4 linked regions of the Homo sapiens genome follow. The protein of the gene in region 2 purifies or fractionates together with the protein of the main gene of each other region. This does not show direct contact. Each region holds a gene or a part of one and is shown on either strand. Other genes may lie near its edges.

Evidence for each region. The genes of interacting proteins can lie anywhere in the genome.
Region 1: the proteins of SV2A (region 2) and CHSY3 purify together in Homo sapiens (affinity purification with mass spectrometry; one large-scale study listed by BioGRID and IntAct). This does not show direct contact.
Region 3: the proteins of SV2A (region 2) and C17orf75 purify together in Homo sapiens (affinity purification with mass spectrometry; 2 studies listed by BioGRID and IntAct, with this or other methods). This does not show direct contact.
Region 4: the proteins of SV2A (region 2) and GFPT2 purify together in Homo sapiens (affinity purification with mass spectrometry; one large-scale study listed by BioGRID and IntAct). This does not show direct contact.

What each region holds. Positions count from the first base shown.
Region 1 is NC_000005.10:130,183,800-130,187,134, reverse strand, and holds the end of CHSY3 (chondroitin sulfate synthase 3), read right to left. Parts: intron 2,907-3,335; coding exon 1,344-2,906; 3' UTR 501-1,343; downstream 1-500. UniProt on the Homo sapiens protein: Has both beta-1,3-glucuronic acid and beta-1,4-N-acetylgalactosamine transferase activity. Transfers glucuronic acid (GlcUA) from UDP-GlcUA and N-acetylgalactosamine (GalNAc) from UDP-GalNAc to the non-reducing end of the elongating chondroitin polymer.
Region 2 is NC_000001.11:149,907,845-149,911,344, forward strand, and holds part of SV2A (synaptic vesicle glycoprotein 2A), read right to left. Parts: intron 3,134-3,500; coding exon 2,982-3,133; intron 2,860-2,981; coding exon 2,726-2,859; intron 2,047-2,725; coding exon 1,957-2,046; intron 1,728-1,956; coding exon 1,617-1,727; intron 1,437-1,616; coding exon 1,348-1,436; intron 363-1,347; coding exon 198-362; intron 1-197. UniProt on the Homo sapiens protein: Plays a role in the control of regulated secretion in neural and endocrine cells, enhancing selectively low-frequency neurotransmission.
Region 3 is NC_000017.11:32,332,174-32,335,673, forward strand, and holds part of C17orf75 (protein Njmu-R1), read right to left. Parts: intron 3,270-3,500; coding exon 3,150-3,269; intron 2,667-3,149; coding exon 2,602-2,666; intron 2,433-2,601; coding exon 2,296-2,432; intron 1,348-2,295; coding exon 1,244-1,347; intron 1-1,243. UniProt on the Homo sapiens protein: As component of the WDR11 complex acts together with TBC1D23 to facilitate the golgin-mediated capture of vesicles generated using AP-1. May have a role in spermatogenesis.
Region 4 is NC_000005.10:180,304,837-180,308,336, forward strand, and holds part of GFPT2 (glutamine--fructose-6-phosphate aminotransferase [isomerizing] 2), read right to left. Parts: intron 2,468-3,500; coding exon 2,340-2,467; intron 104-2,339; coding exon 1-103. UniProt on the Homo sapiens protein: Controls the flux of glucose into the hexosamine pathway. Most likely involved in regulating the availability of precursors for N- and O-linked glycosylation of proteins.

The DNA of each region.
Region 1 (3,335 bases), on a different chromosome or scaffold from region 2:
AAAATAAGATTTTATAATATGCCTTAATGACACTCCATTGGATGGATGTTCATTTTCTCTTACACTTCTTTAATCCAATTATGCTTTTCTAGAAACTGGACACCACTGATCCAGGTCAAAGAAAGAATGATATGTAAAACTAAATGAGATATTTCCTGACGTATTTTTAATAATTATAAAATTGATGTCATATTAATAATTTCTCCAGTGACTTTTGAGATACCTACCAACCCATATTAAAGGCAATTTTTGAACTGTTCTTGGGTCAGCTTGATCCCAAAGCTGAAGAGATTGAGGAAGGATGTTTCTCCCAGATGGTAAATTATTGAGTAAAGAAATTGCTCAGTTTAATCACTTATGAAGGCTAGGTTTTCCAGTATAATAAAACAAACAGCATACCATAATCCCTTGTTAACTTTTCAAGCTGCTCAGCAAGCATGTTTTGGTGAATATGAACAGAAACATATCAAGTGTGAATAAAAGGAAACAACAAAACCTTGTCAGTGTTTTTGAAAAAGAATACTGCTATACCTGTGTTTTATTTTAAATAAACAGGTTCTGTCATATTTTATCTTCTTGCCAGCAAATGAAGGACATTGTTTCATAAAGCTTCTAAAATGTACATGAATATTTAATTAAATCATATTTCCTTGAGAAAATAAAGTTCATTCGCATTTATAGCAGACAGTTGTGAGGAGCTCATAATTGTCATAAGACCAGGGTAGCCAGTACCGGTTGCTTGTGGAACAAAACTCCTCAATTTTTAAAACTTTTTTTAAAAAATAAACATACAATCATAGGTATTCATTTACTTTAAAAATTCTAAAGATGAAGAAAATTATTGTTTATATATTTAAGTCCTTGTATAAATTACAAAACTCAAGTTTATGTTACAGAGTCCCTTCCCCATAGGAAGCATAAAGCACTTTTGTGGTACCTTTCACCAGTAAATATTTGTATCACATTGAATTTGAGAAACCAAATAAAAGTCGATATTGCATCTTTAAGCCCCAAGAGAACATTCTTCTAAGCTGTCTCTTGTGATGAATGCGTTTCAAAAGTCATTTGATTGCTATGATTTAACTCAATCTCAAATAAAGTTATATAAAAGTAATAACATATTGACTTCAGTAGAAATCTGAAACATCAGTGAACTGCAGACTCTTCTTGCTTGAGGTCAACAAACACCCTTAGGAAGACAACCAAGAGTAGTTTAAGACCAGGACAACAAAATAAAATTATAACAATAATAATAATAAAATAACAATAATACAATAAAAATAACAACAACCAACAATGAGGTAAACTCCCCTTAAAAAAGGCAAAATGTGTTGCCTGGACTGTCAGGAGAGAGTTCGATTGTACCTGACACCTAAATGTTTTTCAAGCCAGAGTTCAGCCAGTTGCATGGTTGAGGCGAAAGTACTTGCCTTGGATCCTAAGCACATCTTATACTGCTTAGGGTCCAAGTTAGGATCACAATGAACTGGATGGAAAATATGCACCACTCCTACTTCTTGGCTTCTGAATGGCCTTAAGCCAGATAGAATGACTTTATTGTAGAGATCTACATCTTCTAGTCCCCAGCCTTGTATTGAGGTATCAAATCCACCTGCACCTAGAAGATCACTTTTGTAAATACAGGTGATGCCATATCCATAGTCTCTCCAAAATCCAGTCTTTTTTGAGAATATGAAGTAATCATCAGTGGGAGGATTTCCCCCGTTTGTTACCTTTGGGTCATACTGGCTAAAGATGATGGGATAGTACACCTGTTGTCCCTGAATTGTATTGTCTCTACATCGTTGGAGAAAATCTTCTCTGAAGATCAAGTCAACATCACAAAATAGCAGCAAAGTGTCATTGTCAAACTGGGCAGAAGCCATTTCAAGACCAAGACCTCTGGAAAACTCTCCCTTCATTGGGATCAGGGTCATTTCTGCTTTGGGGTACTTGTTCTGGTACCCTTTTATCAGCTCAATATGCTTGCTGGAGTCTTGGCCAGAATCCCTACTGAAAAGGATAATGACCAACTTTACATTCTGCTTTGGGATAAGACACATGTTTTCAAAGTTCTCCATGAATCTCAAGAAAATGTCATACCTTCCGATGAGAGGAACGAGAATGTGTACTTTCTTTTCATTGTGCCCTCCCATTTCTTTGGCACCTTGAAAAGAAGATAATATCTTTAAAGAATTAGATATAAAGGAGAATGACTGAGTTTCACTGTTAATACTCTCCACAAGACTGTTGACATCTAGCTCTTCGGTCTCTCTGAAGAAAGGCTTGCTGAACAACTGCTGAAGATAGGCATGACGTCTCACTGGCACAGTCAGTTTCCTTCCCTTGTGTCTTTTGTATAAAAGGAGTAAATCCAAAATGTACTCCACCCCGTGCATGGGGTTAACTCTGCGGTAGCCATACTGAATTTCCTTGAAGTCAATGAGCCGTCCTCTGCTCTTGGCATTCTCATTGATCATCTCCATCACCTGTAGGACGGTATCATCCAGTGCTGTTCTTAAAATGCTACTGAGGCTCTGTCGAGGGGGCTGGTTCTCAGCTGCTGAGTATAGAAGCTTCCCTGTCAGGAACTCCCATTCTATCACTTCATTTCTCTCCCGAGGCTGGAAGTGGTTGAAAGAAGGTATCACTCCCAGCTGCTGGTCCTCTTTGCTCACTTCTGTGTTACTGAGCTTGCTCATCAGGGCACTTTCCCTGTGGAGCTGGATGGTGCGGTAGCGAAGTTCAGAAATTTTGCGGCTGAGCATGTAATTATGCAGCCTGTATTGGTATGCAGGCCTTTTGTTGGGATGAAGTGTTATGGCTGCATGGATTTTGCTATTGTGAAGGTCTTGGATGTAACCCTTCCGATTGTGTTCATAATTTTCATGGAACAGTTGTTGCATCTGAAAAGTAAAATTAAAAAAATCAGGGTTAATTTTAAAAGATTTATCTAAAAAGAAAACCAGCGATAAACTAAAGCATCTAAATGAAAATGTTAATACATTTTTGGTATGGTATTTCATAACAAAAATGGTTTGTAATATTTATATTATTTAAAATTAAAATAGTTTTATTATTTGTAATTGGTAGATGAAATTCCATGTACTTATCATGTACCACATGTTTTGAAGTATATATATATAATATATAGAGAATATACATATAGTGGGATGAGTAAATCTAGCTAATTGATGTATTCATTACCTCACATAGTTATTATTGTGGTGAGAACATTTATCATCTTTTTTTAGCATTTTAAAGTATATAATATAGTTATTAACTATAGTCATCATGTATTCAATAGATCACTTGAATTTATTCCTCCTATCTAA
Region 2 (3,500 bases):
GGATGGTGAAAGACACTCCCCCGTCATCCTCATGCCCCCTCCAAGACTCACTCTTTAGCGAAGTAATGGGAAGCTGGGCATTGAGAAGAAACCACAAGTGTTTGCCCCCCAAATGTCTTGTCTTGAACCCCTAGACTCATAAAAGAGACGAGGTAGAAGGAACAGGGAAGAAGTGAAGTTTAAAAGTCCCCACATACTTGTCATTGAAGTACTGCCCGCCTCGGTGGATCTGATTCTCCAACGTGAAGTTAAAAGTTACATGCTCTACGCGCTCCCCGGGGAACACTTTGGTGCGGGATGCGTAGTCCACTGCCTGGAGATGGCGGATCATGTCAGGAAACCAGACGGTCAGGCCATAGTAGCTGAAGAGTCAAGGACAATGGAAACAGACAACAGGGCTTCAGACAAGGCTCAGAGATTAGAATCAGGCAGAGGAGAAAACGGAAATGTGTATCATCTCAGAACAAGGGAGAAATGGAGTCAACCTCTGTTAGGACCTTGCTCCTCTCCAGCCTCACCAGCTTCTCCCTGCTCCTCCCTTCAACAGTTGCTGCGCTCCTGGGGGACTTCAGGGTCTCGCACAGCAGCCACTATACTTTTTCTTACCTCCCAAGCATTTGCTTTTCCCTCTGCCAAAAACACTCTTCTCCACCCCAGCCACCCCCACTCCACCTGTCTGACTCCCATTCACCTTTGAGGACTTAGGTCCCCACCCCAGCCCAAGCCCCAAGTGCTCCCACTGCCCTTCCCCCACCCTTCTCTCATCACCCTGCTTCATAGCAAGTTTCGTCTCACTTCTTTTTTTTCTTTTGAGACGGAGTCTCGCTCTGTCACCCAGGCTGGAGTGCAGTGGCGCGATCTCGACTCACTGCAACCTCTGCCTCCCGGATTCACACCATTCTCCTGCCTCAGCCTCCAGAGTAGCTGGGACTACAGGCGCCCACCACCATGCCCGGCTAATTTTTTGTATGTTAGTAGAGACGGGGTTTCACCGTAGCCAGGATGGTCTCGATCTCCTAACCTCATGATCCGCCCGCCTCGTCCTCCCAAAGTGCTGGGATTACGAGCCTCATCGTCCTGCTTCTTAACCAAAACATAAACTCCAGGAGGACCTTGGACCACATCTGTTTCATCCCAGCACAGAATAGAAACTGAATCCTGGTCAGCCTACAGTACAAGTTTGTTGAGTGAACTAGCGAAGTAGAGGAGCTGGCTGCAGGATCAGAGGGGGTCTGCATGGCACCTTCCCTCATCGCTTGTCCCCTGCATCTCCATTCTCCCCACCTCTCTCCCAGCCCACACACCACCACAACCACCACACATCACCCAGCCCACCCATCTCCTCACCTGAATGACATGGTGAACCACACACCCATCATCATCAGAGTGATGCGCCGATATTCGGGACCAAAACAGGAGAGAAAATTCCCCCAAACCTACAGGGGACCAGACAAAGTCAGACCTTGACTATACTAAGTTCTAGCACCCATAGATCCCCACTTTTCTGCCCTCCCACCTCCCTTCAGCTCACCCATCACCCACACACATAGACTTCAGTCCTGCCTTCTTCTCCACTTCCCCCACTCCCTTCTATCTACCACCCCGTCCACCATTACCTGCCCCCCTAGGCTCAAGGCCCGGACCCCCCAGCGCTGGTACCAGGTCCCTGTGTCCGACTGGATCTCAATCAATTCATCCTCCTGATGAATCGTCTTAATGTGGGTTACCTGGGGTCAAGAGAAGGGGTGGGCAGTCACACACTCTGTGTTTCCCAACATCGGCCAGGCGCCTCAGTTTCCCCTGCATTAGCAAAATGGGAGGCAGGAGGTGGATATGATACCCTGAAAATCTCCTTACGGTAGAGTGTGGTCTGAGGTGGGGGGTACTCAGAGAGGGGCCAGGTAGGGGCTGGGGCTGCAGGGCGTGGAGGTCTGAGTCGGGAGGGCTGTGGCTTACTGAGAACACTCGCTCAGGATGTCCTTTGGCTCGCATGTTGGTATCATGGACCTGCTTCAGCACCATCCAGGCCTCATCATGCTTTCCATTCTAGAGCCAAAGACACAATCCCCACATCCAAGTCAGCCCCTACCTGACCCAGAGTTATAGACCCCCTCCCTCCCACCTGGCTTCTGTAGTCACAGGACACTAAATGGTTCCCAGCCCTCAACCCCACCACCAAGCCCTGACCTATGGGCATGCACTCACCACTCTGAAAGAGCCCCAAGCTGAGGTATAGCAAGACAATCAGACTTGGGCAAGAGCTGCGGGTTGGGGGTGGGGAGTGTTGTCCAGGGGAAAAAGGCAAGCACAGGTCTTGGGAATTCCATAGTACAGAGGAATGTAAAAACCAAAGGTAAGGGAAATGATGGGCAAGCATGTAGTCAAAGACCTAATCCTGCTGGGGTTAGGAGGGGAAGGTATAGGGGGTGGGAATGTCTCTTGAGCTGTAAATGCAGGACAGGGCCAAGGCCCTTCCCTGCAAAATCTTAAGTCATCCATGGGTAAAGAGGTCCCCTGGTTTCTCCACCCAAGAACCCCTCAGGGACACATTCCAAGGCAAAGAATGCAAGATAAAGTCCCCTGGAGAGTGGACTCTGTGAGGAAGGCAGGCAGTCAAACAGGATCAAATCAAACTCCAGTTGGTGTTTGAACACAGAAGCCCCTGCTGCCGTCCACACTCCACAGCCCGCACCCCACCCCACCCCATGCAGCTCAGCCCCATCACCTCTAGGAAGAAACGGGGGCTCTCAGGCTGCGTGGTCAGAGCCCCAATGGCAAACACAGAAGGAAAGGCGCAGACGAGGACGAAGACCCTCCAGCTGTGGAACTGGTAGGCAGAACCCATCTGAAAACTCCACCCTGGTAGGGAGAAAGTGACAGCATCAGCAGAGAGGCCAGAGGCTGGGGGAACCCACCACAGGGAGCACAGAAGAAGAGGGAGGAGGGAGATAACCTGGGGTGGATTTCCGGGGGCTGCTCACCATAGTGGGGGATGATGGCCCAGGCCATAGCAGCTGCGTACACGCCACCAATCATCCAAAACATGCAGAGCCAGCTCAAATGCTCCCCTCGTTTCTCCTGGGCCAGAAACTCGGAGAAATAGGAGAAGACAATGGGGATGGACCCTCCAATCCTGAAGTGCATTTCAAGAATTCAGCATTAGCAAATGGCCATAGTCCTGATCCCCTGCCCCACTGCTCTGGACCCCGAGCCCCTTTTGTCTTCCAGGCTTTTGAAGAGACTCCATCTCACACATAAAGCCTTACAAGCTCCCATGTGGGCCAGCCATCAAGCACCCATCCTTGGGACCATGGGAAACAGGCAAGCGAGTCTCAGGGAAAGGGAAAGAGCAAATCTTAAATCTTGAAAATGAATTACAGAGTTGGAAGGGCGGGAAAGTAATTGCAGAAAAGAGAATAAATCTCCAGAGAAAAAAGACAAGCCAAAAGCCTCCAAGGGCAGATGTTGTGGGAATGGCCAGAAAGGAGCTTGGAGTTGAA
Region 3 (3,500 bases), on a different chromosome or scaffold from region 2:
CTCTTGTTGCCCAGGCTGAAGCGCAATGGCTTGATCTCGGTTCACCACAAACTCTGCCTCCTGGGTTCAAGTGATTCTCCTGCCTCAGCCTCCCAAGTACCTGGGACTACAGGTGTGTGCCACCACACCAGGCTAATTTTGTATTTTCAGTAGAGACGGGGTTTCACCATGTTGGTCAGGCTGGTCTCGAACTTCTGACCTCAAGTGATCCACCCGCCTCAGCCTCCCAAAGTGTTGGAATTACAGGCGTGAGCCACCACGCGCAGCCAAAAATCTCTTATACAAAATAAAAATACTTTAAAATAATCTACCTAGCATGGTGGCTCATGTCTGTAATCCCAACACTTTGGGAGCCCCAGGCAAAAGGATTGCCTAAGGGCCGGTAGTTTGAGACTAGCCTGGGCAACACAGCAAGACCCCGTCTCTACAAAAAATAAAAATAATTAGCTGAGTGTGGTGGTGCACACCTGTAGTTCCAGCTACTCAGGAGGCTGAGACAGGAAGACTGCTTGAACCCAGGAGGTTAAGGCTGCAGTAAGCCATGATTGCACCACTGCACTCTAGCCTGAGTGACAGAGTAAGATTCTGTCTCTTAAAACAAACAAACAAAACTAAATAAGGTGACAACACGTCCCCATCAGAATTTTTTTTTTTTAGACAGAGTCTCACTCTGTCACCTAGGTCGGAGTGCAGTGGCACAATCTGGGCTCACTGCAACCTCTGCCTCCTGGGTTCAAGCAATTTTCGTGCCTCAGCCACCTGACATAGCCAGGATTACAGGCATGCGCCACCAGGCCCAGCTAATTTTTATAATTTTAGTAGAGAAAGGGTTTTGCCATGTTGGCCAGGCTGGTCTTGAACTCCTGGCCTCAAGCAATCCACCTGCCATGGTCTCCCAAAGTGCTGGGATTACAGGGGTGAGCCACTGCGCCCAGCCCCCATCAGAATTTTGAAAACTTAGCCACTGAACCAGTTTTTTTGTGCTTTCCAACTAAGTTAAGTCACAAATTGTAAGACTGATGTTCCTTAAATATAAGCAAGCATTCAACCCAATTTATTAGAAATGATATGTATACAGAAGCTGCCAAAAAATAAAGTAAATGTCTTCTGATAATTCCAGTTTTGAGAACATCCTAATTAACAGACATCACAGCTATAAAGCAATTTGTTACTCTGTCACTGGTACTAATTAAAATTCAGACAAAAATTTCATGTGGCACTTGGCACACAGCCAACTAATTACCTTTAGTTTAAAGTTCTCCAGTACTTGTCGGAAAAGAAAAGGGTTACCTCCTTTGGCACCATTTAAAAAAGCTTGCATCCAATCCTCACAAAACCGGTTACTTCCTATAAAACATTTCAGAGAGACTAAATAAAATGAAATTTTACAAAGCTTTATTTATTTATTTATTTGAGACGGGAGATTCGCTCTTGTTGCCCGGCTGGAGTGCAGCCGGAGTACTAACTATATCGTTAGTAGAGATGGGGTTTCACCATATTGGCCAGGCTGGTCTCAAACTCCTGACCTCAGATGATCCACCTGCCTCAGCCTCCCAAAGTGCTGGGATTACATGTGTGAGCCACTGCGCCTGACCCATTTATTTCTTTATAAAAACACCTATAATGAATTATTTAAGACATGTATAATGGCCTAAAAAAACAGTGTGCTCACCACATGGCTAAGGAATACCAAAATGGCTGAAGCCCCCTGTATGCCCCTTCCCAATCACATCCCCCTTCCTTTCCCATCAGAGAGGATAATCATTCCCACAGACGTCTTTAAACTTTTCCCATATACCTTTGCACGTGTAAGCCTTATCTACATTATTCTGCATATGTTAAAACTTTTATGTATTTTTTCTTTTATGGCTATTTCACTAAATAGTATGTTTGAGAGCTATATTGACACAAGTAGCTCTAGTTCATTCTTTTTCACTGCTCTGTTATATTCCATTGCATGAATATAGCAGCTTATCAGTTTTCTTGTTGATAAACACTTAAATTGCTTCCAATTCCTTGCTTTTTCAAGTAATGCCTTTATGGACATTTTAAAATTCATCTCCTTGTGTACACATACTAGAATTTCTTTATGTACCTAGGTGTGGAATTGCTAGGCATGGCATGATTTCCATGTTTCTAGAATTATATTGTTTTCACCAAGTGGTTTCTCATGGTTTGAGATAACCATGTAAAACTGCACAAGGCAGGAAGAATAAGGTTGTATCATAGGCTCTCAGTGCAAAGATGGGGACTCGCAAGAGATGTAGGAAGGCTGCTTCAGAGGTTGTAGCTCACCTGCATTGCAGAACTGAGGCTGGGAGCTGCTGCAATCGATGACCACAGACTTATGCTGCTCCTCTGTCATGGCCATGCACAAAGAAGTCATGGTGCCTTCATGAATAAGTCCTTGAAGACTGGCCACACTCAGAAACCTGCCACACACACAAGTCCATTTCCACAAACAATATTGCAGGACGGAAGGATGAAAACAAATTTATTTTGCACTGGGCTGGTGGGGAAGGGATGGAAGGAGCAGTTTACAAACACAGATGTCAATCTTGCTGTGGAAAAGCTTTTCTCTTTGAAAAAACTGTTCTTTACCTGTTAATGTCTCTCTTTGTTTTTTCATCTGATTCTTTAACTTCAACAGGAGTGTAACTCAAAGCCTATGAGAGAAAAATAAAGCCTGATTGGTACATATATTCCAGTTTTTCTTGAGCAGCTACTCATGACTAAATGTCCCCATAAGTCCCTACCACACTGGACAACAATTGATGGGCACTGGTCACAAGCTCTCCAGAGCCTTGTTCAGCCACTGCTCATTAACATTTTATAGAATCAAAATTGCTCTGGATTTTTGTTTTCCTTTTCAAATTGTTTTGGAAACTATACCTTTCCCAGATCACTTGGAAAAGTAATTATTTTAAAATGTTTTATCCTATTAGGAAGACTCAGCATTTGAAATTCAACTCTACCTTAGTAATATCACTTTCTAGATCTGAGAAAATAAAGTGTGGTCTATCTTGATAGCAAGCATAGTTTGAATATTTGGGGAGGGATGGGAGTCATGTTCAGAGAAAATGAGTATGTTTCTAAATCATCCAAAGTGATTCTCAGTTAAGGAAATGCTCTCATTTGGCAGTACTTACAGCATGTAGCAGAAAGGTAAGCTTTTCCTGAAAGAGAAGAACAACCCTTTGGATTGGGCATACAACATCCTCAAACCAGCTGCTCAGATAGGATTTTATGTGACTCTCCAGGCCCCTTGCCTAAATCAAGAAAGAACATCATTTGCTTTAATATAAGCCTTTCCTTTAGTGGACTTCATATTTTCTTCATCATATCCTTGATGGTGAAAAAGACCAGGATAGACACCTCCCTTTTTAAAGCTAACACCACCAATTCAAAAAAAGAAATTGTGATATACCTTTCCTGGCTTGTTGGGCAGGGTGAGGGTTAAATCTGTACTGAATTTATTTAAAACACACCAAGAAATGCAT
Region 4 (3,500 bases), on a different chromosome or scaffold from region 2:
CCATGATGACGGGCATCTGCTTGTCAATCAGTGCCAGGGGCCCGTGCTTCAGCTCCCCAGCCAGGATGCCTTCTGAGTGCATGTAGGTTATCTCTTTAATTTTCTGGAAACAGGAGGTGAGATCAGAGTCACACTGGGCAGATGGGGCTGGAGCAGATCAGCCAGAGGGGAAGAAGGGGAACCAGGGGAAGGATGACTCTGGAAGGCAGAGAGCCAAGGGTTGCAAGGCAGACAGATGCCTGGAGTGCTTGACAGCACTGAGGACACCCAGCAAGGGCCTGGGGAGAGGCCTGGCTACCATCCAGAGCATGCACCAGCCCGGGACACAACCTCTGTGTCCCCACACCAGCCCCGGGCACTGCTGTTGTCTCTCTCCAGTCCCACGCACAGCCACCCCTTAGGACAAACAAGTCGGAGTCAGCCTAGCTCACCCCCTGCTCCTCCCTAGCCAGCCACGTGTATAACGACAGCATCGTATTCAGCTTAGCTACACCTTCAGTTAATTATCTGATTAAGCATTTGCCCATTAATAACTTCTAAAGAGTGGTTCCAAGCAAAATCACACAAACTGGGGTGTTATTTGAATTAATTTTTTTCCTGTGTTCAGGTAGATCCATCTCTATTCAGTTACCACAAATCCACGTCATTGAAATGGTGAGACAGTCAAATAAATCATCTCTCGACTCCCCGCTAGCACTGCTGATTTAGGTCAGGGCCACACTGTAAGGAGTGCGGCTCCAGTCTGGAGGCGCAGACAGCTGCAGTGCCGGCCTCCCAGTGACCAGAGGACCATGGGCTCGTGCCAGCAGCCACCTAAACGCTTCTTCCTTCAGCAGACTCATGCGGAGGCATAGCTGCAATGTGCATCTCCCGCCAGCACGTTCAGCCACCGCAGCTCAGCCCCCACCCATGACGCAGAGTCATCTGGGGACTGACAGTGCACCCCAGGCCTTGCCTCTACTGCACTCCAAGAAGCAGCACCTGCCTGTTCTTTAACAGGAGTCAGAATCTCCAGGGGGCAGGTGCAGGAGATGGAGCTCAGTGAGGACAGCCCTGCACTCCCCACCAAGACCAAGGAAATCAACTCTGAATGTTTCCGGTAACCACTTGTAACTGGCATTGTCTTTCTTTTTTTTTTCTTTCTTTCTTTTTTTTTTTTTTCGTTGAGATGGGAGTCTCGTTCTGTCTCCCAGGCTGGAGTGCAGTGGCATGATCTTGGCTCACTGCAACCTCCTCCTCTTGGATTCAAGCGATTCTCCTGCCTCAGCCTCCCATGTAGCTGGGATTACAGGCGTGCACCACCACGCCCAGCTAGTTTTTGAATTTTTGGTAGAGATGGGCTTTTACCATGTTGTCCAGGCTGGTCTCGAACTCCTGACCTCAAATGATCTGACTGCCTTGGCCTCCCAAAGTGCTGGGATTACAGGCGTGGACCACTGTGCCAGCCTAGCATTGTCTTTCAAATGGGGGTGGTGGGGAGGAGATGGGAGAGGATGGCAGCCCAGCTGGGCCACGGTTAATGCCCTCGTCTTGGTGGCCAGTGCAGCCTCAGCTGGAGCACTGTCCCCGTCACCTGGGCTGAGCATCTGCTCCGTGCATGGCATGCTGACAGCGAGGAAAGGGCAAGTCCGAGATGCAGGACCCTGCACGGCTCTCTGCCCACCCTCTGGGCAGCCCTGTGGCCCTGGCACCCTGTCCCTGCCCCATCAGCTTTCTCTTTCCTGGCGTGGATCTTTAATGCTGCAGGGGGCAAATGGCCTGTCACCAATTTTTGAAAAAGCAAGGCCTTCGAAGTTAATTCCTGCAGGATCTCAAACTCCCCTTGGAAGTTTGAGGGGTAACAAGGAAACTCTGCGGAGAACCCACCCCTCAATTTTGGTGGAAAAAAGCGAAGGCCCCATGGACTCAGGTCTGATTCGGGTCCCCTACGTCATCTTGAGTGAGATACTTAAGCTTTCAGAGGCTTTGTTTCCTCCTGAATGAGGGTGAATAGCAACCGCCAACCTCTCAGAAGCAGCTCATGAGGTCTGAGTGAGCTGTTCCAAGTGGACCCTGGCAGTGCCTGGACAGCCGGAGGGGCACACCCCAGGCGCCCTGTCCCTTTCTCCTCAGTAGATTGGGAGATCCCTGGGGGCAGGCACCTGCCTCACCCATCTCTGTGTGCCCAGGGCTAGAAACCTGGTGGAGAGCTGGTGCTCAGCGCAGGCTCACAGGACTGGCCAAGGGGTCCTTAGGCCCGGCCCTCCCCAAGCCCAACGCCCTGCCCTCCTTCCCGCTGGCTCCTCAGGGTCTCCTGTGCCTGTCCTCCGTGGGGGTGGGGGCTGGGGGTGGGGGCTCACCAGGGCTCCTTCCAGGCAGGTGGCATAGTTGTAGCCCCGCCCCATCACCAGCAGCGATCTCTGCGTGTAGAGCTCCAGGGCCAAGTCGTGGATCTTCTCCTCCAGAGACAGCACTTCCTTGATCAGCTCTGGGCCATGCACGGAGCAGAGGGAGAAAACCAGTCAGGCCGACTTTAAAGCAATATTCATGAAGACAAATGCTGGGGTTTAAGAGGAGCTTTTGAAACCGCATCACTTAGCACACTTTGCTTCCTCGCATTCGTTTCAAACGTAGATTACAGGAAATAACTTGGGCTCCTGGCCAGGATTCTGTTAGGATGGGGATTCGTGTTGTGTGAACACTTTCTTGAGCACCAACAAGGTAGGAAGTACCATTTCTCACTCCGTTTTGCAGGTAAGACAACTGAGGCTCAGAGAGGCAAAAATCACCCACTGGAGACAGAGCTGACACCACCAGTTAACACCCCTCTTTCCTGCTGTGTCTCAAGACAAGGCCCCTGTAAGTGGGACCACCGGTTCTCAAACCCTTTGGTCTCAGGACTCCTTTACACTCTTGAAAATTATTGCAAGTCCCTCAAATTATTGCACATCCCCAAGAGCCTTTGTTTTTGAGTTAAATCTGTCAACATTTACCAGATTAGAAAATAACACTGAGGACCAGGCGTGGTGGCTCACGCCTGTAATCGCCGCACTTTGGGAGGCCGAGGCGGGTGGATCATGAGGTCAGGAGATCGAGACCATCCTGGCTAACATGGTAAAACCCCGTCTCTACTAAAAATACAAAAAATTAGCCGGGCGTGGTTGGGTGCGGTGGCTCACGCCTGTAATCCCAGCACTTTGGAAGGCTGGGGCAGGCGGATCACGAGGTCAGGAGATCGAGACCATCCTGGCTAACATGGTGAGACCTGGTATCTACTAAAAATACAAAAAATTAGCCGGGCATGGTGGCGGGCGCCTGTAGTCCCAGCTACTCGGGAGGCTGAGGCAGGAGAGTGGCGTGAACCTGGGAGGCGGAGCTTGCAGTGAGCTGAGATGGCACCACGGCACTCCAGCCTGGGCAACAGAGCGAGACTCCATCTCGAAAAAAAAAAAAGAAGAAAAAGAAAGAAAGAAACTAACAATGAGAAATTTAAAAATATTCACTTTAAAATAACAACACTA